7 linked regions of the Homo sapiens genome follow. The protein of the gene in region 6 purifies or fractionates together with the protein of the main gene of each other region. This does not show direct contact. Each region holds a gene or a part of one and is shown on either strand. Other genes may lie near its edges.

Region 1 (3,500 bases), on a different chromosome or scaffold from region 6:
GGAAAACTCCATCTCTACAAAAAAAATGCAAAAATTATCCAGGTGTGGTGATGCATGACTGTAGTCCCAGCTACTCAGGAGGCTGAGGTGGGAGGATCGCTTGGGCCTGGGAGGCGGAGGTGGCAGTGAGCTAAGATCACGCCACTGCACTCCAGCCTGGGTGACAGGGTGAGACCCTGTCTCAAAAAAAAAAGAAAAAAGCTGCAATGTTTGTTAGATAATAAGAATTATATAACCCAAGATGTTTCTTCTATGGTCTTAGTTGTCAATAAGCTGAAAGTTAATTTAATACTCAAGTATAGCAACTAGTTTGGCCTATGGATCTTGCTATTTTTTCCCTCCCCTCTACATTTTTTTCCTGAAAGTATATATTTGTCTCATACTTGCCCCACATCCTTTTACAAGGCAAGTAATATTAAACTTTGAGAGAGATGATTATTTGCAATAAACAATCTAGTTAATAAATTCCAAGCTAGAATGAACCTATGCAGTAAAGTTAAATTAATAACATAACATCATTTTTCAAAACCATTAGAAGAAATCAGTCACAAGATTACAGTTTTAATTTTGCTATATAAATGTATTAAAGTATTTATTTAATTCATATCATTAATTCATTAACAACAAAGAGCAGGCCATTTAAAAACCAAACTGCATGTCCTCAAAATTATAGAGCTGTTTAACTACTGCAATCATAAGCTACTTAGTCTTACAAAATAAACACACATGCCAGGTGCAGTGGCTCAAGCCTGTAATCCCAGCACTTTGGGAGGCTGAGGCAGGTGAATCCCTTGAGCTCAGGAGTTCAAGACCAGCCTGGGCAACATGGCAAAATCCCATCTTTACCAAATAATAATCACAATAATAATAACATGGACAGGGTATGGTGGCTCACGCCTGTAATCCCAGCACTTTGGGAGGCAGAAGCGGGAGGATCACCTGAGGTCAGGAGTGCGAGACCAGCCTGGCCAACATGCTGAAACCCCATCTCTACTAAAAATACAAAAATTAGCTGGGCATAGTGGCGGGCACCTGTAATCTCAGCTACTCAGGAGGCTGAGGCAGGAGAACTGCTTGAACCCAGGAGGCATAGGTTGCAGTGAGCCGAGATTGTGCCATTGCACTCTAGCCTGGGCGACAAGAGTGAAACTCTGTCTCAAAAATAAAAATAATAATAATAATAATACAAAAAGGCCAGGTGCAGTGGCTCACACCTATAATCCCAGTACTTTGGGAGTCCAAGGTAGGAGGATCACTTGAGCCCCAGAGTTCAAGACCAGCCTGGGCAAATAGTGAGACCTCATCACTATAAAGTCGTAAATAAATAAAATTTAAAAAATAAAAAGAGAATAAACACATGTACACAACCACATACAGTATGTGGCAGAAACTTAGATAATTTGGGTATTAGATAGTCAAACTGAACAGAATGACTTACAGCTCTGGAGGAATGGGTTACATATATAATGCCCCAAATTTATAACTGGAAACAAACTAACAGAGAAAAAACAGCATTATTCATGCCATTAGGCTTCAAAGAGAAAGAACAAAATTTGCTAGTGTTTGTAAACATTTGGGGTAGTTGATTAAAAAGCTTTTTAATTGTCTGGAAAAGCCTACCATATTTCCTTTCAGGAGGCACATTCTGGTAATCTGAGACACTGCATTACTACTCAGCTTTCTGTTAAGTTCTTTCCAAGCACAGCTGACATCCTGTATTTCCTCTAGGCTTTCCAGAGTCATGGTCACAAACCCCTTAAGGAATAAAAACCACATTATGTTTGGAAATAAATCAGCAGCAGTACAATGAAATTCTAACTCTATAATCCTTCAAGACTTAACTGTGCATTTCTTATGAGCCAAAAGTATAACATTGCAGCTAAAAAATTTTTTTGAAACTACATTATTAGAAGAATAGTGTTTATAGATAATTGAAAGTACTATCCTATGTATTGCTGTAAGACTCTATTTAATTCTAACCATTATGCTTTAAGAGAGAATTAAGAATTAAGCAAACCAGAGCCAAGAAAGACAACAAGGTAGTGAAGAATTAAGGAAATGTTGAAGGAGTCAAAGTCAGCTTGGAACGAAAACCTTGGCTGGGTGTGGTGGCTCACACCTGTAATCTCAGCACTTTAGGAAACCGAGGCGGGAGGGTCACTTGAGCCCAGGAGTTTGAGACCAGCCTGGGCAACATGGTGAAATAACCATTGCTACAAAAATAATAATAATAATAATTAGCCAGGCATGGTGGCCTACTCCTACAGTCCCAGCTACTTGGGAGGCTTGAGCCCAGGAGCCCAGGAGGCAGAGGTTGCAGTGAGCCGAGATTGCACCACTGCACTCCAGCCTGGGTGACAGAACTAGACCCTGTCTCAAAAAAAAAATAAAAAGTAAATACAACATAAATTTCTTTAACCTTTTTTTTTTTTTTTTAAGACAGGGTCTCGCTCTGTCACCCAGGTTGGAATGCAGTGGCACGATCTCAGCTCACTGCACCCTCAACCTTCTGGGCTCAAGCAGTCTTCTCACCTCAGCCCCACAAGCATCTGGAACTACAGGTGCGTGCCACCATGCCGTGCTAATTTTTGTATTTTTAGTAGAGACGGGGTTGCCCAGGTTGGTCTTGAACCCCTGGACTCAAGTGATCTGCCTGCTTCAGCCTCCCAAAGTGCTAGGATTACAGGCATAAGCCACCATGCCTGAACAATTTCTTTAAACTTTTGAAGGAGTGTTACATAAGCAAAAATTATTTGTTCTGTAAAGCTTCACTAACAGCAAAAGAATCAACATTAAGAAGATATGGGGATGCATTCAGCAAACAAATATTTATTGAGTGCGCCCTACGTATGTGCCACAGACTGTACTAGGTGCTAGAGATTCAGCAGTAAGTAGTCCTTTCTCTCATGGACAGTAAATTCTAGTGCATGTGCATGTACCTACACCTGTATGTGGGGTTGGGTGGGGGGGTACACAGTAAACAAAAAAGCAAATATATGGAATATCATATAGTAATAAGCGTCACGAACAGGAATAAAGCAGGGCTTAGGGAACAAAGAGTATAGGGAGGAGTAAGCTATTTTAGAGTGATCAAGAAAGACCTCTCTGGTATGATATTTGAGCAGAGACCAGAATGAAGTAAAGGAGGAAGCAACATGGTTATTAGAGGGGAAGAACATTCAAGACAATGAAAGTATGTACAAAGGCCTTGTGTAATAGTTAAGTTTATGTCTGAGGAAAACCAAATAGGTTAGGGTGGCTGAAATAAGAAAGGGGAGAGTGATAAGACATGACGTCAAGAAGATAGCAAGAGGAAAAGCCTATAGGACATTCCTGATAAAGACTGGATTTTGGTTTAACCCATGAAAGAAATTTAAAGCCACTAACACCCTGTTTCTAAGATATTTAATCAGAGATTAAATGACCCATCTGCCAAAGAGGGATTCTTCATTGGATGAGAGTTGAGACTAAATAACTTCTTAGGTACTTCTTAGCTCAAA
Region 2 (3,500 bases), on a different chromosome or scaffold from region 6:
GCACACACCTGTAATTTTAGCATTTTCGGAGGCAGAGGCAGGCAGATCATGAGGTCAGGAGTTGGAGACCAGCCTGGCCAACATAGTGAAACCCCGTCTCTACTAAAAATATAAAAATTAGCCGGGTCTGGTGGCGTGCGCCTGTAATCCCAGCTACTCAGGAGGCTGAGGAATAAGAATCACTTGAGCCTGGGAGGCGGAGGTTGCAGTGAGCTGAGGCTGCGCCACTGCATTCCAGCCTGGGCGAAAGAGCGAAACTCTGTCTCAAAAAAAAAAAAAAAAAACAAACCCAGAAAACAAAAAACAAATGGAAAAGAGGCTTCAGACAGGAATGTGGCTGTCGCCTATGACACAGGTGCTCGTGAGGACAGGTGACTGCTGACGCAGTCACCCTGCCCATGCCCAGCCTCACCTTCTCGCCACTGTCTCGCAGCTGCTGTAGCTGCTGTAACTGTCGCAGCCGGCGTCCCTTCTCCAGCTGCTTCTGCAGCTCCAGCTCCGCCTCGTCCTCCTCCAGCACCTGCGGGGACCCCGGCGGTGGAGCTCCACCTTCCTCTGGGGGAAACACAGGGGATGCCTGCTCAGACCATCTCCTCCAACCCGCGGCTCCTGTCCCTGCCCCTCCCACCCCCTGGCCGGGCCCTCACCCTCATCACTGATGTCCATGTTCTCCACTCGGGTGTCGTCCGACGGCAGGGGCTGAGGCACAGGCTCCTTCTCCTCCTCCACTTCGGACACTCGGCGGCGACCCCGTCCCCGCAGTCTGAGGGAAGGAGGCCTCTCTGGTGAGCACCGGTCCCCAGGCCACCCCAGCCCAGCCATCTCGCCCCACCACCGTGTCCAAGCCCACCTGGAACCAAAGTCCCCATCCTGAGTCTGGTCCCCGAGAGGCAGCAAGTCATCTGCCCGCACTACTACCTCCTTCTCCTTCTTGCGGATTTTCTTCACCCTCCGCTTGGTCTTTTTAAAGGTCACCTTAAGGGAAGAGGGGCGAGACATGGAGCGGGGGCCACAGAAAGGCAGGTCGCCACAAGCCCTCGAGGGTGAACACTTCTTTGGTGTTCCTCTGTGCTAGCCAGCGTCCTGAGCGCTTCCCACACATGAGCAACATGTGGGGTGGTTACTATCTCAATTCCACTGGTGAGCTAGGGAAACTGGGGCACAGGGAGGTTAAGTACCTTCCCCAAGGTTGCCCAGCTCCTAGGTGGGAGAGCTGGGCAGTCTGGCTCCAGAGTCCTGCTCTTACCCACTGAGGAAGACGCCTACCGCGCCAGCTGTCTACCTCACGTTCACACAGTCACCCTGTGGACAGAATCCACGCACACCTCTCCAGTCACCCCTCACCCACGCTGTCACTCATCCTCACAGCAACCTCAGGAGGCGGCTCCTGTCACTGCCATTCCAGATGGGGTGCCCCAGGCTCACAGTTAAATGGTTTATCCAAGGCACGAGCTGGCAGCATGGCAGAGCCGAAACAGACTGGGGCCCATCTGGCTCAGCAGCCCTGACCCATCCACACCTGGTGCCTCCCCCGGTTGCCATTTAGTGCTCACCCGCGAGGCCAAGCGCTTTGTGAACACAAATACTCGCCCTGTCTTCTCAGTGCCTGCGGGCAGGGCAGGAGCCCCAGAGGGAGGGAGAATCTTGACCCCGAGTATAAGGCACGGGAGGGCTCACCATCTCCTCAGGCGTGAGGTATTCGGAGGCCAGCCGGGGCCCCACTGTGCTCAGGGACTGAGCCTGCAGCCGCAGCTTGGCCCGGATCTCCTCCAGCTCCCGCTCCCGCAGGCCATCAGCCGTGCCGCCCTGCTCCAAGCGGAAGGAATGTGGCCGCTCCCCTTCAAGCTCTTCGTCATACTTGGACAGGATAGAGCGAGGTTTTTGCTGCAAGGCAAGAGGTACAGGTTGGGACCCAGGCTGGCTCCTGAAAAGCCACTGAGCCACCACCTCCTCAGAGCCCCCATTCCCGACATTCTCCACCTCAGCCCCCGCCACCCAGCCTGCCCAGGCCGTGCCTGCGCCAGGTCGTCCACGCTCTCGTCCTCGGCATAGGGCAGGTAGTCAGGCTTCTTCTTCCGCAGCTCCACATTTTTCTCTGCCCGCTCCTTATCCACCAGGTTCACGTTCACCAGCACGTCCTCCTCCTCCTGCAGCACGCCTGGGGGCAGCACAGAGCAGTGGCCATTCACACTTGTCCGCAACTCAGCAGAGGCTGTGCCCCCACCCAGGGCACCCAGCTCGCATTACCTTTGTCCTTGAGGGTAAGAATCATTGTCTCCCCTTCTCGGAAGGAATCAATGGCATGCTCCACGGTGAGGCCCTGCAGGTCCCGGGCACTGTACAGGTCCTAAGGGAAGAATCGGCGAGTCAGGAACCTCCCTCCACGCACCCAACCTCGGGATTCCGGTAGCAAGGCCACCAGTGTCCCCTGTACCACCCCTGCTGCAGCCTCACCTGCCGCCTCTGCCCGAACTCCTCCTCCACCAGAGTGCTGACACCAAACTCTTGGTCCATCTCCTCCAGTAACTTGGCCTACGGGACAGGGAGGGGTGACCTAGGACTTCAGGCCACTCAGCATCACCAGAAAACACTCAGGGCTCTACCAAGCGGAGTGCAAAAAGGGCAGGCCTTGCAGGAAAGCTGCTGAGAATCCAAAGTAGATGCTACCGACCACGGCCCTTCCCTTCTCCAAGCCCCGTCTCACCTCTCTGGGGTTGGCCCCCGCCTCAGTGCCGTCAGGCCACCAGAAGCACTAGGCGACCACCCCATGCTGCCCAGGTGCTCACCCTCTTCTCTGCCAGGTCCTTCTCCTTCTGCAGCTGCCGGCTCCTCTCGATCCAGGCTGCAGTGTCGTCCAGCCAGGGGTCATCCTCTCCTAGGGTCTTTATCTTCCTGAAGAGGGGAAAAAGTGATGCTCAAGGAGCCCAGCTCCTGCTCCCCACCCCACTCAAGAGGCAGCCAAGGATGGTGGCCTCCCCAGCCCTTCCCTTGCCTGCCCTGGCCAGGACCCCTCACCCCAGCTTTTGGTTCAGCAGGCGCTTCTCCTTGGCAGCCGCCAGCTTCTCCCGCAGCTCCTCTCGCTGTCGCAAGGCCATAGGGTTGATGACATCAGCTGTCACGGGCTCCTCCTTGGTGCCCGCCTCTGGAAGGGGGGCCCAGACGTGAGGCTATGCCCGCCCATGGCTGGTGGGGAGAGGAGGGAGCCACTCACCCTGCCCCCTTCCAGCTCAGGGGGCCAGAAGGGGTCAGGACAGGAAGGAACAATCCTTCACCTCCCTGCTCCCACTTCGTCCCCACACTCCTGGCCAACCCATGCAGCACAACAGGACCCTCTGTGGCTTCCAAAGCCCCTCAAATCGTGCTTTAAAGAAAAACAAGAAACCCACCCCCGCACAGCGCAGTCTGCAGCAAGTGTGCACATCTTCCAGTCCATCTAACAACTCACAGCCAGAGTGAGTATGCGACGGCCACAGCTCCAACTCAGAGAGCAGGCGGAGCCC
Region 3 (3,500 bases), on a different chromosome or scaffold from region 6:
GTGGGTGGGGGCTGGGAGGACTGGCACAGGGTGGGGGACCACCTTGCCAGAGTGGAGGCCCCCCAGGAGGTAGGAGCTCCCCTCCTGCCTGGGGAAGACACTGGCCCACATGGGGTCAGAGGCCACAGCCGCCCACCCCACCCTCTTCCCCTAGAGCCCGGTGGTCTGCGACTCCCCTCCCACACATGGTCCCGGGTCACTCAAAGGACGACACGGGGAGCTTTCCTCGAAGAATATTTTAATACATTTTAAAACTCAACAACCTTGTATAAAAACCTGTCGAGTCTGCTGGCACAGCTGGGGCTGGGGGTTGGGGGCCGGGGGCCTGTGTGGACAGGGCTGGTCTGGACGAGTGGGTTGGGGCAAGAGGGCATCGCTCATCCCAACACAGAAACAGGTCTCCAGCTCCGAAGATTAAACAATCCACCCGGCTCCCACCAGTTCCTTTCCAAATCACGGCCCAGCCAGCCCCGTGCGTGTCGAGAGTGGGAGAGGGTGTGTGGAGGTTTGTGCTGCCCCACGTGGGCACCCGAAGATGTCCACCCTCTCCGCCCTGGGCAAGTCACGGAGAAAACACAGCTCTTTCCTCCACAACAAGGAAAATGATTTAATTCTACAAATTTACAAACCAAAATACAAAAACAAAACATGGAGCACAAAGTAAGACGAGGAGTTCCGAGTCTCATCGCAGCTCCAGCCGCAGTAGCCACGCCTGTGGTCCCGGCTGAGTTCTCCCCATGACGGGGTCCACTCTGACCTTCAGAACTTGAGGCTGAAGCCGGGGCCCGCGGCAGAGGCCCCCTGGTTCGTGGTGGTAAGGTGGAAGCCCGTCTCCTTCAGGTCGTCGTCACCCTGGGACGAGTCGGCTACCGTGAGAACCCTGCCCAAGCCAGCCCCACCTGTGGGCACGCCCCACCCGCCAGGCCCCTCACCAGCTGGCTGTAGCCCAGGCCTCCCTCAGGGGGCCTCGGGCTGGTGCCCCGCTTCACACGCTGCTGCTCGCTCTTGGCGGGCCACGTGGGGAACATGGAGGGGTCGATGGGGAGGGGGGTCTCGCGGAAATACTCATGCTTGAGGCCGTCCTCAGCGCTGATCCTCCTCCCGGGGAAGTAGGTCAGGAACCTGGGGGGAGAGGGCCAGAGGCCCAGGAGGTGCTCGTGTGCTCCACTGGGTCCCCCAAAGATGGGCTGTGTTGGGACGGGGCTCAGGGCATGGGACGCCAGGCACCAGAGCAGTTCTGGAACGTGGTGAGCCAGCAGGTAGGCCTGGGACTGGGAAGTCACCGCTATGGCTCGGGACCTCCCGCCACCCGGCTGCACTGGGCTCACTTGTTCATGAGGTCGAAGCCCTGGTCTGAGAGCAGAGCCCCGAAGCGCTTGCGGAGGTTGTTGTAGGGGTGCTCGCTGAAGGTCATCTTCTTGACTGCTGGGAGCTCGCTGTAGCCGGGCCAGATTTTCTCACTAGGGGTCCCCAGATCCTGAAAGACAGAGGTGCTTCAACAGCCACACCAAGTGGCCCACAGTGTTGGCACCTGTGTCCCGTCAGAGAAGACAAGCCACCAGGAGGGCTCTCAGTGGCCCTGGTCCCCATCTCAACCCAGCACCTGTGCGCCCCGCAGCCCCATTCCTGCAACTCCTCCACAACCCCACAGCGCACCTGCAGCAGGGCCAGACCCACCTTGAACACCTTGTTGATCTGATCGATTTCTGACTTCCCGGGGAACAGAGGCTTCTGAGTCAGCAGCTCCCCGAAGATGCAACCCACTGACCACATGTCCACGGCCGTGGAGTATTCCTAAGAGGTCAGGAGAGGTGTTCAGGAGGGCCAGTGCCCGCGAAGCTGTGGGAGGCTGCGTGGGGGACAGGGGAGGCACTCAGACGCCCAGGACTCACCTTGGCACCAAGCAGCAGCTCTGGGGCGCGGTACCACAGGGTCACCACGACCGGGGTGTAGGCCTTCAGAGGGGATCCGTACTCCCGCGCCAGCCCGAAGTCACCCACCTGCAACGACAGATGGGCGGCTGTGAGTGGGCCCCGGCAGGTCTCCCTGGGATGGGCCACTCGGAGGGGGGCTCACCTTGAGGATGCCGGCGTGGCTCAGCAGCAGGTTGGACGTCTTGAGGTCACGGTGCAGGATCCAGTTGTCGTGCAGGTGTTTCACCCCACGCAGCAGCTGGATCATCAGGGTCTTCACCTCCCCTGGGAGGGAGGGAAGCTCCCATGTGGACCTGGCTGCCCCCAGCCCAGGGCACTCAGGGTGGCCCACTCGCCTCGGCAGCAACAGAGGCTTCTCAGGGCTTTCCCTGTGGATGCAGCTGGCCCTCCCTGCAGCACTGTCACCGCGGGGGTGACCAGGACCCTGCCCCCACTTGTACGCAGACAGGCCCCTGGGGCGCGGCTGTACCTGGCAGGAAGGGCTGTTTCATGGTCTCCATCAGGCTCTTGAGGTCGTGCTCCACATAGTTCATCACGATGTAGATCTTGTCCATGTTGCTGCCCACCACAATCTCCTGCAGGGCACGGCTCTGTGGGTGCTGGGCACCTCCAGGCCCCCACCCACCCCTGCACCCGGGTGCAGCTGCTGAGGGACAGTAAGGACCTCCGGTGCCACCCGGGAGGCAAATGCTTGCTTCTGTGTGGTCTGTGAAGGGCTCCACTAAGTGCAGGAGAGTGTAGGAAGCACCCGGCCCCAGGACAGCACGGGGCCCTGTCAGAAAAGCCTTCCACCCGGGGCCAGGCGTGGTGGGGCCATGCTCACTCTAACGGTGACGATGTTGGGATGCTGGGCCTTGAGGATGGTGTTGATCTCCCTCAGCGACGTGATCGGGAAGCCCTCCTTCTCCTTCTCCATCTTCAGCCGCTTTAGAGCCACAATTTCATCTGTGAAGAAAATACAGACGGCACTGAGAGGCATTCTCAAAGTCACGGTACCAACAGTGGACTCGTTCAGTGAGGACCGCAGGCAGTGCCCAAAGCGCCAGCATTTCACGGAGGGGGGTCTCGTTCTAGGTGGGGGCACGTGGGCACCAGGAGAACGCCCCAGCTGAGGTCTGGGCAACACCCACGGCTTCCCACTCAACACACCACAGACACTCACAGCCACCTACAGCCACCTGGGATCCCAGCGGCCACGCCGACTCCACATCGACTTCCCCAACAGAGCCGGCCTCACCTGGGATCCCAGTGGCCGACTCCCAACAGAGTTCCCGGCTCACACACCTGCTTGGGTGGGACGCTGGGAACGCAAACCTGCACACCAGCCCCGGCACAGACCACTCCACGCGCTGGGCCTCGGCCCTGTGGGGCAGGCCGCCTGCTACTGCAAGGGAGTGGCAAAGCCCCAGGGCCAGGCTGACCTCTGGCTTCTAGAGGTGCTGAGGGGTCCAACCTCCAGTAGCTGCTCAGGTGAGGCGGGCCCAGGTGCAGTCGCAGCTCTCGGGCAGCCAGCCCCTGCCCCACTTCCCCTGCCTTTGTGGGGTGAGGGGACCCCACCCACCTGTT
Region 4 (3,500 bases), on a different chromosome or scaffold from region 6:
GTTCCCTGAGCACATATTTATACCAGGCTGACCAAGCCTTGAGTTCCTCTTCTCCCAAGGAGCTCAGCTAAGGGAACACAGCATGGCAAGTGCTATGAAGAGGGTAAGCACGGGACACTAAGGGAGCCCCAGGAGAAGCACTGCTTCCCCTTAGAGGCTCAGGACTAGAGGACCCATGGCAGTGCTCCAGGATGGAGAAGGCCAAAAGGCAATCCAGACCGAGGGAAAAGCCTATTCTGCACAAAGGCTCAGGACAAGAGAAGGGGTGCATGGAACCGTGGGCAGGAGCCTGCTCTGTCAAACAGGAGGGAGTGGAGACAAGGCTGGGGCTAGATCCTGAGGGCTTCACACGCCAGACCTAGCGACTGTTACTGTTGGCTCTGTGATGTGAGGGAAGCCTGAAGACAGCAACCTCATCCCTGCCCACCTCCCACGGTGGCTCAGACAATACCCAGGAGAGTGGAGAGAGCTAAGGAGCTATTAGGGTGCTGCTCTGGGTAAAGCAGGAACATGCACCTCTTGAACATTCCAGCCTCTTGCTCCATTCACACTGTCCAATCTTGGCCTGCAGCCAGAGGCCTGACACTATTCCTGTCCTTTCAAGGGCTTAGCACTGTGCTGGCCCAGGAGAATCACTAAGTTAATAATGAAACAAACTACACCACCACCCCCATCTTCTATCTAAAAAAAAAAAAAAAAAATCAGGATGACACAATGGCTCTGACCATTGTTTTTAATTTATGAAATCAAGTTTAACACACAAGAAGCCTATAAACACTGCAATACAGAAAAATTAAGCTGCTGCATTGAATTCTTACTCCAAAACAATGCAAATCTGCATGAGGTCTCTCCCGCTATGGGTGTGAGTGGAAGAGAGGGAGACTTTTTTACCTGGGGTTGGTGGTGGAGTGAAACACAAGGGTGGGAGAGGTTTTGCAAATAGCCAGAGAACAGAAACCAATGTGCAGTCACTGACACACTTGACCAGTTAATTTGCACTTGTACTTGGCTGTGGCTGTTCCGGCTGTGGCTCCTTCGGCTTCTTTGTCTTCTTCTTCTTCTGCTTGGAGAGACAGCTCAAAGCAGACTCGCTCTTACTTGGGGCAGACACAAGCAGGGGCGGCTTGCCAGACTGAGTGGGATACTTGGTTTTCTGGCTCTCCGTAAACAGTGGCTGGGACAGCAGGTGGCGCAGCTCCTTCTTCAGAACCTTCATCTGCTTTTGTCTCCGACGTTCTTCTTGCTGGTCAGCTTTTCCTCCTTGAAACACAATACAAAAACGATCCTATTTACTATGGTTTGTAGAAACATTTTGTTTCCCTTGATGGGTAACACAGTGAAAAATGTTTTAGAACTACTTTAGGGAGGCAGGGTTCAAAAGTTCTCTGAAGAAGCTAGTGGTGGCTTGGCAGGGGCTGTAAATGGATAACGTCTAACCATTTGCAGGGGATACACAGGACCGCTCTGTCCTTTTTTACTCCATAAAAATCCTCCAAGACTGGAATTATCTTTACAGATGAGGCAACTCAGGGTTAGAGAAGTCACCTGGCTCACATCACAGAGCCAGTCATCAGACAGAGCCCAGAACCCAAGTCTCCTGACTGAAGATCACTTTTCTTCCTATGACCCACCCACTTACTGCCCACCTGGGGTTTGGTGAGTTCACAATTACAACCCCCACCTCCCTGCCGCCCCAGGAGACACTGAATGCTTCTTTGTAGCCCAGCTCTCCTATGCCTTGCCACCAGTGCTGTGACTGCACATGGAGAAGCTGGCAGAGCCAAAAGGTTCCACCTCAGTCTGTCCTCAGGAAGGGAAGCCAGGGCCTCCACATCTTCGGCCCAAGCCCCAACCCTGAGCCACCAGAAATAGCTCACTGTCATCAAGCCCACTGGTTTGGCTCCTGGCTTCCATGCTGAGCAGACAGCAGTTAAGTCTGCCTCTGAATTTGCTGACTTGGGCACCGAGGTGTCAACATCTCTGCTGAGCTGCATACTTGGTGGTGTGGAAGGAGCATGGAGTTCTAGATTTGGTTCTACCACTTTTTAGACCAGGAGTTTTCTCAAGCAGGGACCGGGCAGATTCATCCCTGAAGCCTCAGCCTGTGGTCACATATAGAGTAGCAGCTCTGGAAATGCCTTGTGACAGAGCTGTTTCCCTGCACAAACTGCCTCTGCTGTGGTATCTAGTTTCCATATGTAAAAGAAGAGTACTTCCTGCTGTGTTCATGTCATGAAAGTGGAGAAGATCAAATGAGATAATGGCATGGAAGTGCTTTGTCAGCTTGGAAGGCAGGTGTAGTAGGAACCATAATGACAAATAACTTAAAATGTAATACTTTCTATTTGCCAGGCAATGCTATAAGCACTTAACATTTTTTAACTCAATCAGTCTTCACAACAATCCCATGAAGTAGGTAGTTGACTACTTCCATTTTATGGAGGAGAAAGCTGAGAACACAACAGAGGTTAAATAACTTGACTCAGTCACATAGTTAAGGCAATGAGCCGGCATTCTAACACAGGCAGCCTGGCCAGAGAGCCTGCTCCCTTCCTCACTGTACTCCACTGCCTGTCCATGTAAGAGGAGGCAGCTGAGGGCACAAGACAGAGACAGAGGAAACAAAGACTGACCGAGGGCAGTAGGCTCACCTGGGACCAGGGCCTGTTAGCAAAGAGGGGGAAGGACGCCTTGCTGATTTTGACAAGACCCACAGTAGTAGAGATGGTTCCAACAAAGCAAAAGTTAAAGAGAGATTTCAACTTCCTCAATTCCCATCCCGCCCAAGGGCTTACCCTTATACATGTCTTCTTCCAGCTCAATCTCCAGGGCAGCTGCTGCCTGCTCAATCCAAGAGTTGTGCAGGCAAGCCTGGAAGTTCCGATACTCAGATTTCTCAATCTGTCGAGCTAAACGGATTCGCTCCTGGGGGGAAGTAACAGAAAATATTCATCTGAAATAGAGTTCAGGCCTCTGGGAAGCAAAGTCTCACTTGAGTTGTGTTTGTGTGTTTAAGGCAGGTATCACTCTGCTGCCCAGGCTGGAGAGCAGTGGCATGATCATGGCTCACTGCAGCCTCAACCTCCTTGGATCAAGCAATCCTCCCACCTCAGCCTCCCAAGCAGCTGGGAGGCACCACCATGCCTAGGTAATTTCTTTTTTTTTTTTTTTTTTTTTTTTTTTTTCGTAAAGACAGGGTCTCAACTGTGTTGTCTAGGCTGGTCTTGAACTCCTGTGCTCAAGCAATCTTTCCACTTCAGCCTCCTAAAGTGTTGGGATTACAGGCGTGAGCCACCGTGCCCAGCAAGTAGTGTTTTTAAAAAGCTCTTGAGCCGGGCATGGTGGCTCACACCTGTAATCCTAGCACTCTGGGAGGCCAAGGCGGGCGGATCACCTGAGGTCAGGAGTTCAAGACCAGCCTGACCAACATGGAGAAACCCCGTCTCTACTAAAAATACAAAATTAGCTGGGCATGGTGGCGCATGCCTGTAATCCCAGCT
Region 5 (3,500 bases), on a different chromosome or scaffold from region 6:
TCATTAGTGAGTTTTATATAGATATTTATGACAAAATTTAACTTGTTTGCCCTTTTTTGGTCTAATTCAAAATAAGAGTTAATGGCAAATGTCAGAGGCTAAGAACAGTTTGGAAAGGGGGTTCATGAAGGAGACCACTCAGAGACAGTGTTTTAGTGGCTAAAAAATAAGTTGCCTTTCTGAAAAATATTTGTATGCTTTTTACTCCATTGTCCACCAGAGGGAGCATCACATCTGATTAAGAGATAATGGGGAACTCCCAGATAGAAATGGAAAATCATCTGAAACTTGATCTACGAGGTGCTACAGATGGTAGCATATACAGTTAAATGTAAAATCAAATCAGAGAACCCCCAAAAGAATCTCAAAGTGAGTGGGAGGACAGCCTCCTAGGGAGATCTCATCTCTAAAAAAAAATTTTCTTTTAATTAGCTGGGTATGATGTTGCACGCCTGTGGTCTCAGCTGCTCAGAAAATTCTGGAGGCTGAGGAGGGAGGATCACTTGAGCCCAGGAATTCAAGGCTGCAGTGACCTATGATCAAACCACTGCATTACAGCCTGGGTAACACAGGGAGACCCCAGTCTCTAGAGGAAAAAAAAAAAGAAAAGGAAAAAACAAGAAAAATGAGCAAAAGATAAATACAGACAAATCACAAAAAGATATAAATATGGCCTTTAAACACATGAAAAGATGTTTAACTTCACCCATAATGCAATTTAAATGCAAATTAAAACTATACTAAGATCCCACTTCTCACCCATAAGCTTAGCAAAAATTCAAAAGTTCAGGCTGCAAAGCTAAGGGAAACAAGTACTCACATACATCATTAGTGGGAATGCAAAATGGTACAACCCCACATAGGTATTTACACCTTGACCCAGAAATCCCATTTTGAGGAATCTACCCTGAAGATACACCAGCAACAATATAAAAATACACACATGCAAGGTTATTCATTAGAGCAATATGCACAATTGCAAAATACTGGAAATTGCCTAAATATCCACACATAGGAAATTAGAAAGTACAGTGGATACATAAAATTGAGCATTATGGAGCTATAACGAATAAGGAAGATCTCCATGAACTGATAGTAGAGTGATTTCCAGTAGACACAAAGATAATGAAGCAAGTGCAAAACTAAGAATGGAAAATAAGAACACACATATAGGCCGGGCACAGTGGCTCACGCCTGTAATCCCAGCACTTTGGGAGGCCGAGGCGGGTGGATCACGAGGTCAGGAGATCGAGACCATCCTGGCTAATGGTGAAACCCTGTCTCTACTAAAAATACAAAAAATTAGCCAGGCGTGATGGCGGGTGCCTGTAGTCCCAGCTACTCGGGAGGCTGAGGCAGGAGAATAGTGTGAACCTGGGAGACGGAGCTGGCAGTGAGCCGAGATCGCACCACTGCACTTTAGCCTGGGCAACAGAGCAAGACTCCGTCTCAAAAAAAAAAAAAAAAAAGAACACACATATATACTTGCTTATCTTAAAAAGAAAAAATATAAGATGAACCAGACGCTACGGTCTGAATGCTTATACCCCCCAGGCTGGAGTCCAGTGGCACGATCATGGCTCACTGCAGCCTTGACCTCCTAGGCTCAAGTGATCCTCCCACCTCAGCCTCCCAAGTAACTGTGATTACAAGGGTGCACACCATCCCACCCAGATAATTTTTTGTTTTTTTTTTTAACAAGATGAAGTTTCCCTATGTTGCCCAAGGTGGTTGTGAGCTCCTGGCCTCAAATGATCCTCCCACCTCGTCCTAACAAAGCACTGGGATTACAGGTGTAAGCCACCACTTGATTAAGCCAGACTTTAGAGAGACATGAAAAAAATGTAAAGCAATGCAATTCTCATTAAATTTTCGTTGTTTTAAAAAATACACACGGGCCTATAGTCCCAGCTATTCGGGGGACTGAGGCAGGACAATCGCTTGAACCCAGGAGGCAGAGGTTGCAGTGAGCCGAGATTGTACCACTGCACTCCAGCCTGGGCAACAAAGCGAGACTCTATCTCAAAAAAAGAAAATATAGTTTGATTCCTTAAAAAATTGTTACAACATAATAAATTTACATATATGTAACAATTTTTTAAGTAACCAAACCATCAAATATACACACACACACACACACACACACATATATATATTTTTGTTATTGTTGTTTTGTTGTTGTTGGGTATTTTTTGGAGGCAGGGTCTCACTGTGTCACCCAGGCTGGAGTGCAGTGGCGCAGTCTCAGCTCACTGCAGCCTCCACCTCCCAGGTGCAAGCGATTCTCCTGCCTCAGCCTCCAAAGTAGCTTGATTACAGGCATGCACCACCACATCTGGCTAATTTTTGTATTTTTAGTAGAGACGGGGTTTCGCTACGTTGGCCAGGCTGGTCTCAAACTCCTGGGCTCATGTGATCTGCCCACCTCGGCCTCCCAAAGTGCTGGAATTACAGGTGTGAGCCACCACGCCCTGCCTTAAATTTATGTTTAAATAGGTATTTTCAAAACTTAGTTTTAATTTTTATGCAATAAATATAAATAGATAAAACCCACATAAACAAAACATCATCAGCACTCTCAATAACGTTTTTTAAATCCCTATCAAATCCATTTTGATAATTTGTAAAAGGATAAAGGGGTCCTGAGACTAAAAGGTCTGAGAACCACTGGTCTATAACACCAGCTGCCTTAAATGCCAGAGTATGTTAAGAGCAGGGGCTGGGGCTGGGGACTGTATCGCTTCTGTTGCCTGATAATGCTGGATTCTGCACTACCATCACCACAGACACTGGGCCCTGCTGCTGCTGCTGCTCCTTGGGAAACTGGTTGTTGCTGGAGAGTGATTCTCTCAACCATTCTTCTTTGTGATACTGGCTTTTATTCAAAGTCCTCAGAGAGCATCTTAGATTGACCGAACTTAGGTCACTGCCCGCACCCTAGCTGCAAGGGAGGTTGAGAAGGTATTTAGCCTTTTTGGCTTTTTCGATAGAAGGCAGACTTGGTCTACATCCCACCAATAGTCTTCCAATGAGGAAATCGGCAAACATAAACAGTCAAAACCACAAGCATTAGCCCATTGCTCTAATTCTTTCTGGGAAGGTCAGAGGCAACCTTGTGGGGAATATCACAGCTCTATCAAAGATTCTCAGTGGATCTTAGAGATGGTGGTATTACACACAGGGAAGACAAATCCAAGTACAGGAAAAAAATTGATATTCCAACTGACTCCTCCATGACAAAAAGTTCTACCATAATAACCCGACACAAGGTGGCTGGCTGGTCCTGAAGATGTGTTGCCATTTGGGGAATCAGGACCAGTTACTACTGGCAGCAAACTGGGCACTCTGTACCAGCAGAAGCCACATGGCTATCATGAGGGGAAGTCTGTATTGTTGAGTTCCAGGCACCAGCCTCTATCCCCGTCCCCATGGTTGCTCTGTTCTTGAGCCTTTTGAGCAAGCACCAGGCTGTCTGAAGAACAACTTACTGCTATCCACAA
Region 6 (3,500 bases):
TGGAAATTATTTTAAATACCCTATGAAAACAAAAGTCAACATAAATGAAAAAATTTAAACATTTTTGGTCTCAGATAAAACATGAGACAGCATAATTACATAAACTTTATTTATTTTTTTAGAGATGCAGTTTCGCTCGTTGCCCAGGCTGAAGTGCACTGGCACGATCTCAGCTCACTGCAACCTCCGCCTCCCAGGTCCAAGCAATTCTCCTGCCTCAGCCTCCCAAGTAGCTGGGATTACAGGCACCCGCCACCAAGCCCAGCTAATTTTTGTAGCAGAGATGGGGTTTCACCATGTTGGCCAGGCTGGTCTTGAACTCCTGAGCTCAGGTGATCCACCTGCCTCAGCCTCCCAAAGTGCTGGGATTACAAGCGTGAGCCACCATGCCAGGCCAAGTGAACTTTAAAGTTGTAAGTACCACAAACCAAAACTAACTCAATCCACTATCGTATGCTAGACAGGCATGACCTTAAATGCTGCAACCAAGTTGGCTATTACACAGGTGTGATTACACAATATCATCTTTCTCAATATTAAAATTCAGGACCAAGAATTTTTTTTTTTAATTTACTTATTTACTTTTTTTTTTTTTTTGAGACAGAGTCTCACTCTATCGCCCAGGCTGAAGTACAGTGGCACAATCTCGGCTCACTGCAACCTCCGCCTCCTGGGTTCAAGCAATTCTCCTGCCTCGCCCTCCTGAGTAGGTAGGATTGCAGGCACCTGCCACCACGCCCGGCTAATTTTTGTAATTTTTAGTAGAAATGGGGTTTCACCATGTTGGCCAGACTGGTCTCAAACTCCTGACCTCAAATGATCCGCCTGCCTCGGCCTCCCAAAGTAGTGAAATTACAGGTATGAGCCACCGTGCCCAGCCTATTTTTAATAATTAATATCTGATATGTCCTAGTCTTCTGAAGGAATGTTTCTTCCTTTGGATTAACTCTAAATTAAGCAGCCTAAGAGGTGCTAAGAAATTACCTCTGTCCAATTGTCGTAAAAATAAAGCTACATAGATCATTGCTTATCACGTTGACCTGCATGCAGATCCTTTCTAAACCCAGATTTCATATTTGAAACAGTTTTGAAATACAAAATATTTTAATTAAAAATGATGAACAAGTAGTTTACACATATTATAGGTTAATTATTTACTCATTAAAAGACGTAGTGTCTGTTTTGATGGCATCTTAATGCAACACATCAAAAAAGAATTCTTTGTTGACCTGTTGCATTGAAAATGTCCAACATCCCAAAAAGCTTAAATAGTTTTGGTAAATAACCAAACGAGATTTCCAATAAAACTGTAAAATTCACCTAACAATAAAAAAAGTTTTTCTGTCCAAAAATAAAATCCAATTATGAGCTGTTCATGAGGGAAAAAAAGAACTGATTTCATATCAAGTGAAAACATGTTATCTCGTGAAATATAAGACCAACTGCTTTTCCTGACTCTGATTTAAGTAAAAAGCATCCTAGTTACCAATGGTTAATAAAAACTTCTTTTATCCTTAAAGATATGAATTAAAATCTAATTAACTTACTCTGGGTCACCTTCATTTGATTTTTAATGTAGCACTTAGCATGGAAGTTCACAATAACAAAAAAACAATTTGTTTGCATCATAATATGGTTAATTCTTATCTCTTGCAATTGCTATTAAAAATATTGCAATTGCTATTAAACAGAGTATTTTATATAAAGTAAAATACTCATTTTATATTATACAAAGTAAAATACTGTTTATTTTATATAATGCAAAATACTCATTGTTTAATAGCAATTGCAAGATTTTTAGTTAAATACCATCCACTTCCAGTTTAGTGTAGAAAACAATTTCAACAACAAATACTGTTCCTCCATGTTAAGTAAATTTGTAGGTAATACAAAAAATTATTCTTTCAATGTCAAGAAAAAAATAAGGCTCCTCCCAACATCTGCACATTACAGAACAGGTAGTAAATACGAGCCACTTCAATTTTAAACCCAGCCTAAAAGCCAGTAACATTCACAGAGTAATATTTCAAATAGTATTCCACTCGTTAATTTGCCAGTCAACATAAAAATTAATTTTACCATAAAATAATTATATTTTCAATATTAAAAAGTCTCATAGATAATCTATCATGAAATTGGGGGAAACAAGTCTCACAGAATACAAGTATTTAACATTTATTCTAACACATAACAGGGAACAGTCCCTGATCACCCTACATATTTGAGATGTAAATGTGTTTGCTTCAATAAAAGATTCACATCCAAGAAATAATTAAGCACCTACCATCTGCTAAAAACAAATCCTTTGGAGATAAAAGCTTTTACACATTATTAAAATATTTTTAAAATAGTAAACATAAAATAGCATCTGTTGAGAAAACTGCATACTAGTATTTCCTAACCAGTTTTGATAGCTCTTCAAAGTTCTGTTAGTTTTACACATTTTAAACACACTATGGTTGTACACATTTAAGTCCCAGTAGTAGTAGCTTCCAGAAATGCAGAGCTGTTAGGGTTTACATAAAACACACCTTTAAAAATTAAACCACAGGTTTCTTTAGAAGATTGATGAATGAAAACGAGTACATTATTCTTGGAAATTAAGAAGCCAATTTAAGAAATTATAATTTCCCTAAGACCACTAAGATATGTACTGAGGGGAAATTTTTCTCCTATTAATTAGCTTTTCTCCCTACTGCCTCAATAGACTCAAGAAGTCCTAGAGCTTACTGGGGGCATATATGGCAATGATTTCTCTCTGGAAGCTGTGAGGAAGTCAGACGAGCCAAAATTGTAGGGCAGTTATCAGTCTTACAGAGTTGACGGGAAATGGAGACCTGTCAAGGCTCTACACTTAAACTGGAATCAGAGAGATCCTTTCATTTACACTGACAACGAAAGGATGTATGATCAAAATGTAGGCTCTAAAAATAAAATTAACTCTCCAATTACATTATAGTTCTCTACAAATCCACTTAAACAGATAAACAACTAATCCTTCAAACTCAGCTATCCTAGAACAAAGACCATTTGACTAGTTTCCCCCAAGGAACCAAATTCTTTCAAAACTCTCTGGGAACAAAAATTATGCCTAACCTTCTAATAAATTTGCCTAGACAATCCTAACTTAAAACACACATAGTAAATTAACAAAAAACAAACAATTATAGCCTCGTGATTTATAAAGTAACCATTCAAAATAAGGTACAATACTTAAAAAAAAAAAAAGCCAGTATCATTTTACAGGAACTAAAACATCAAAAAAAAAAACAAAAAACAAAAAAAAACCACCCACCACCACCACCAAAAAGAAACAAAACCTAAAGCAATAAAGCAAGCCAATATGAAGAAAGCTAGTAAACTGAAGACAGCTTTTCCTATAATTTCTAACTTGGTATTTTTCATTTGAAGCCAAATAAGTTCAATTGCTTTGTCTGTCTAGACCTGACCAAGGTCTCTATGAAGAAAACCATCGGGCACAGGCAGTGTTCCCTCCTATG
Region 7 (3,500 bases), on a different chromosome or scaffold from region 6:
ATGGATAAAACTGAAGAAAATCCTTCTCCCAACAAAGTTCCACACCCACCCCCTACACTCAGCTACCTGGTGTAATCCACCAGAGTTGAGCTGGATCCTTCAGTTCCAGTCACTTTTCGTCTGACCTTTCCTTTGACTTTTTCTTGTTTAACTTTGCTAGATGTTGACTCCAATTTTTCAGAGGGTTCTTTTGTGTTTGATATATTTTCTGTACTTCCAATTTTCTTCCCAGTTTCTCTGTTGAGTTTGATTTTTTTGGCTGGCGCACTTAAAGAAATTTTGTCCTTTTCAGGGGTCCTATCCATTTTTTCAGTATCAGGTTCCATTTTGCGCTTTGGTGATGGTTTCACTATTTCAGTCACTTCTAGTTTCGAGATTTTCATTGAAGAAGACTCAAAATCTTTATCTACGCCTTTTTCTTCAGTTTTTCTTTTTCTTTTTTCTCCCTTATTATCAAGTGGTTTGTTTTTCTCATTAGGCTTCTTGGCCTTTTCTTCCTTAGTTGTTAGCTTTTCTGATTTGACATCTTTGGAATAGTCCTTCTTCACTTTTTCCTCTTTGACTGGTTTTGTTTCTTGGTGTTCTTTTGCTGATTTAGAGTGAGCTTTTCTGGGGGTTCCAGTGATTTTTTCATCCTTCTGAGAGGAAGATGATGATTTAGTATTGTCAGTCTTCGGAGTCTCCTCTTTGGCTTTTTTAATTGGAGGTTCAGATCGAGGAGATCTCTCACGTTCTCCATCTACTTTTTCTTGGGGTCCTTTAGCAGGTTTTACAATATTTTCTTTTTTGGACACAGCAGATCCATCATTCTTCCGTTTGGTTTTATCACCCTTTGCTTTTGGTTTATCCCTTTCTCTCTTGTCTTTTTCAGACACTGATTTAAAAGTGATTGATTCTGCATCCATTGGTTCATCTCTAACAGGTGTGGCATCATCTCTACTTGGGAGAACAAACAATGAGTCTGTTTTATTTTCTTCAACACCTGTAGGTTCTCTTGATTTCCTAGAAGTCTCTAATAACTCTGGGTTCAGAAAACCCTCACTTTCCTCCCCTTTTCTTCTTTTTCTGTGTTTCTTATGCTTATTTCCTTTACCATCTCCTGGAGCGTTTTCACTCTCCTTCTCTTTTGACTTTGTATTATCCTTCTGATTGTGACCATCTCTTGCTGAAAGCTTTTCTGGATAGTTGCTACCTATGTTTCGACTTCTATGACTTTGCCCACCAACATAGTCTTCTCTGCGGCCTCTTGTGAAGGGAGAATTCCTGATGTTAAGTGGCAAAAATCTCTCTGGAGAAAAGTTCTCTCTATTTGCTGAGGGTCTAGGCTGTGCTCCAGCAGCATAACCTTTATAATATTTTTCATACCACTCTCTATATTTTCTCTCCCATTCTCGGTAGCGTTCTTTTTCAAATGGGTCTCTAAAGTCAACACTTCTCCCATAATATGCTTTCATGTCATATGGTGGTGGAACTTCTCTGTATCTATTAAAATATTCACGTTCTGTTTCCCCTTGAGGTACATTACGTTTATTAGGAGACTGTCCCCTAAACGCTTGAGGAGATCTTGATCGTGAATGATAGCGTCTGTAAGGGGGTGACCTTGACCTAGATCGATGATATCCATGAGATCTAGACCGTGAACGGTAATTGCGGCTCTTGCCTCTGCCTCTTCTGGGGTATGGAGGTGACCGTGAATAGGAACGAGAATGTGAGCGGCTGAATGATCGAGAATAAGAGCGTGAACGTGTTGAACCAGATCTTGATTTAGAATAAGTATATGAACTTCTTGAATACGAAGAACCACTATAGGGAGATTTAGACCTAAAAACAAAACAAAACAATAGTTGATAGTTGAGAAATACATACAAAATAAAACACAGACTCTCAGATTCTAGCATTCTTTCCTCACGGTTTCATCTATCTTTATATCAAATTTCATCTTAGATGATTAAAGAGGCACAGTGACCTCTACTGGAATGGAATAAAGTACACAAATCGGAGCAATCACTTGTTACAAAACAAAAGTGAAGTCTTAACAATTAGAGTGAAGTGCATTAATGTACCGTGAGTTATATGAGCTAACTAACATTAAACAAAATGTCAATTAATTTTAAATTTCACTTCCTATCTGAATATTGAAGTAGGAGTCTGTTTTTTGTCCTATACTGGCCAACAGCCTAGTTTTAAAAGAAACCACATTTCAAGTGTAAGGCTAAAAAATAAAGTCTTTTAAACAAACTTCCAGGGAATTTTTATAATTCACTTTTTCTATCAATAAAGCGATCTGTATTCTACTACTACTTCATAATTACGCAGGTTAATGTTCCAGCAAGAAGCTGTAGCCTTATGGTAAAAGGGTCCTGGGAACTGTTTTTTGGCTATTCCCCTATTTCTTTCCTTCCAAAAACATTTCCCAATTATTTGATACTATGAATAACTTTAAGGGACAAGGGCAATTTAATCCCCACAACTGTTAGTTCTACACAATAAAATTTACACTGAGACATTATTTCAATGAACAGATATTGGGAAATAAGCTACATCTTCACTTCTATACACCTAGACCGAATCAGAAAAATTCCTAAGTGCAATGTTCTTTATATCCATAGCTAATCCCTGGATATTCAAAGTCCCGTTTGTAATTCTGTTGTGAAGGCTTGCAAAACACTAACCTGGAAAATGAGCGCCTACGCTCCTTTTGAATCTTTTTGTATTCCATCAATTCCTTAGCAAAATCATTTGTAAACTCATCTAGCTTGGACTTTTTCTTTTCCCTAGTAAAATAAAGTTAAAGAGTGAAAGTTAACAAAAACCATTTAAGAAAACTAACAAGACAAATGTAATTAGATCATGAATGAAATGAATGAAATTGCCATTAGTTTTCCACTTTAAAACTATAAACTAGGAATCCCTGAGAAGTTGCTTGTATGGCTTTGGTTTAAATTTTAGGTGAATTTCTCATACTAACTGGAAACACTGGAAAACGTTTCCAGACACCTATTTAATGTTATTATCAGAAAATGAAAAAAGTGTATAATAATTTCAAATTAGAATACATACTCTTCTTTTAGTCGTCGCTGCTCTCTATAGAATTCTTCCCTGGACAAAGGTGGTGCTTGTGTTGTTGGGATGGTATTTGAATGAGCTGTCTGCACTCCTGATGATACCCAAGGTGTTGATAAATTGGCAGGAGCTGGAGGAAACCCTGGAGGAGGGACACTATACCCAGCGGGTGGTGGCTGGCCAGGAGGAAACTGAGGAGAAAACTGTGGAGGAGGAACACCCGGAGGGAGAGGAAGTGTATGGGGAGGAGGCGGATACAAAGGAGGTGGTGGAACAGGTACAAAGACTGGAGTTGCTGGTAGTGACGGGCCTTGAGTCCTCTGTGATCTTTCGCTGTGGTGTCGCCCACGGTTTATACTTCTGGAAAAATAAATTCCAAGATATTACTTCTTCAAACTAAAGTCATCTGAGACAAGTAAGCTTATCTCTTCTATCCA

The links.
Region 1: the proteins of KMT2E (region 6) and DDX50 purify together in Homo sapiens (affinity purification with mass spectrometry, with the first as the bait; one study listed by BioGRID). This does not show direct contact.
Region 2: the proteins of KMT2E (region 6) and SART1 purify together in Homo sapiens (affinity purification with mass spectrometry, with the first as the bait; one study listed by BioGRID). This does not show direct contact.
Region 3: the proteins of KMT2E (region 6) and CDK11B purify together in Homo sapiens (affinity purification with mass spectrometry, with the first as the bait; one study listed by BioGRID). This does not show direct contact.
Region 4: the proteins of KMT2E (region 6) and DDX24 purify together in Homo sapiens (affinity purification with mass spectrometry, with the first as the bait; one study listed by BioGRID). This does not show direct contact.
Region 5: the proteins of KMT2E (region 6) and SMYD3 purify together in Homo sapiens (affinity purification with mass spectrometry, with the first as the bait; one study listed by BioGRID). This does not show direct contact.
Region 7: the proteins of KMT2E (region 6) and RBBP6 purify together in Homo sapiens (affinity purification with mass spectrometry, with the first as the bait; one study listed by BioGRID). This does not show direct contact.

Annotation. Positions count from the first base shown.
Region 1 is NC_000010.11:68,939,315-68,942,814, reverse strand, and holds part of DDX50 (ATP-dependent RNA helicase DDX50), read right to left. Parts: intron 1,756-3,500; coding exon 1,621-1,755; intron 1-1,620. UniProt on the Homo sapiens protein: ATP-dependent RNA helicase that may play a role in various aspects of RNA metabolism including pre-mRNA splicing or ribosomal RNA production.
Region 2 is NC_000011.10:65,964,734-65,968,233, reverse strand, and holds part of SART1 (U4/U6.U5 tri-snRNP-associated protein 1), read right to left. Parts: intron 3,143-3,500; coding exon 3,016-3,142; intron 2,893-3,015; coding exon 2,787-2,892; intron 2,533-2,786; coding exon 2,455-2,532; intron 2,348-2,454; coding exon 2,248-2,347; intron 2,159-2,247; coding exon 2,016-2,158; intron 1,885-2,015; coding exon 1,678-1,884; intron 976-1,677; coding exon 851-975; intron 764-850; coding exon 648-763; intron 556-647; coding exon 413-555; intron 1-412. UniProt on the Homo sapiens protein: Plays a role in mRNA splicing as a component of the U4/U6-U5 tri-snRNP, one of the building blocks of the spliceosome. May also bind to DNA.
Region 3 is NC_000001.11:1,635,005-1,638,504, forward strand, and holds the end of CDK11B (cyclin-dependent kinase 11B), read right to left. Parts: coding exon 3,496-3,500; intron 2,880-3,495; coding exon 2,758-2,879; intron 2,510-2,757; coding exon 2,404-2,509; intron 2,199-2,403; coding exon 2,077-2,198; intron 2,001-2,076; coding exon 1,893-2,000; intron 1,850-1,892; coding exon of another isoform or gene 1,795-1,849; coding exon 1,678-1,794; intron 1,478-1,677; coding exon 1,329-1,477; intron 1,123-1,328; coding exon 933-1,122; intron 853-932; coding exon 760-852; 3' UTR 221-759; downstream 1-220. UniProt on the Homo sapiens protein: Plays multiple roles in cell cycle progression, cytokinesis and apoptosis. Involved in pre-mRNA splicing in a kinase activity-dependent manner. Isoform 7 may act as a negative regulator of normal cell cycle progression.
Region 4 is NC_000014.9:94,050,203-94,053,702, forward strand, and holds part of DDX24 (ATP-dependent RNA helicase DDX24), read right to left. Parts: intron 2,926-3,500; coding exon 2,796-2,925; intron 1,261-2,795; coding exon 989-1,260; 3' UTR 1-988. UniProt on the Homo sapiens protein: ATP-dependent RNA helicase that plays a role in various aspects of RNA metabolism including pre-mRNA splicing and is thereby involved in different biological processes such as cell cycle regulation or innate immunity.
Region 5 is NC_000001.11:246,497,280-246,500,779, forward strand, and holds part of SMYD3 (histone-lysine N-methyltransferase SMYD3), read right to left. Parts: intron 1-3,500. UniProt on the Homo sapiens protein: Histone methyltransferase. Specifically methylates 'Lys-4' of histone H3, inducing di- and tri-methylation, but not monomethylation. Also methylates 'Lys-5' of histone H4.
Region 6 is NC_000007.14:105,017,205-105,020,704, reverse strand, and holds part of KMT2E (inactive histone-lysine N-methyltransferase 2E), read right to left. Parts: intron 1-3,500. UniProt on the Homo sapiens protein: Associates with chromatin regions downstream of transcriptional start sites of active genes and thus regulates gene transcription. Chromatin interaction is mediated via the binding to tri-methylated histone H3 at 'Lys-4' (H3K4me3).
Region 7 is NC_000016.10:24,567,066-24,570,565, reverse strand, and holds part of RBBP6 (E3 ubiquitin-protein ligase RBBP6), read right to left. Parts: intron 3,424-3,500; coding exon 3,061-3,423; intron 2,775-3,060; coding exon 2,673-2,774; intron 1,822-2,672; coding exon 67-1,821; intron 1-66. UniProt on the Homo sapiens protein: E3 ubiquitin-protein ligase which promotes ubiquitination of YBX1, leading to its degradation by the proteasome.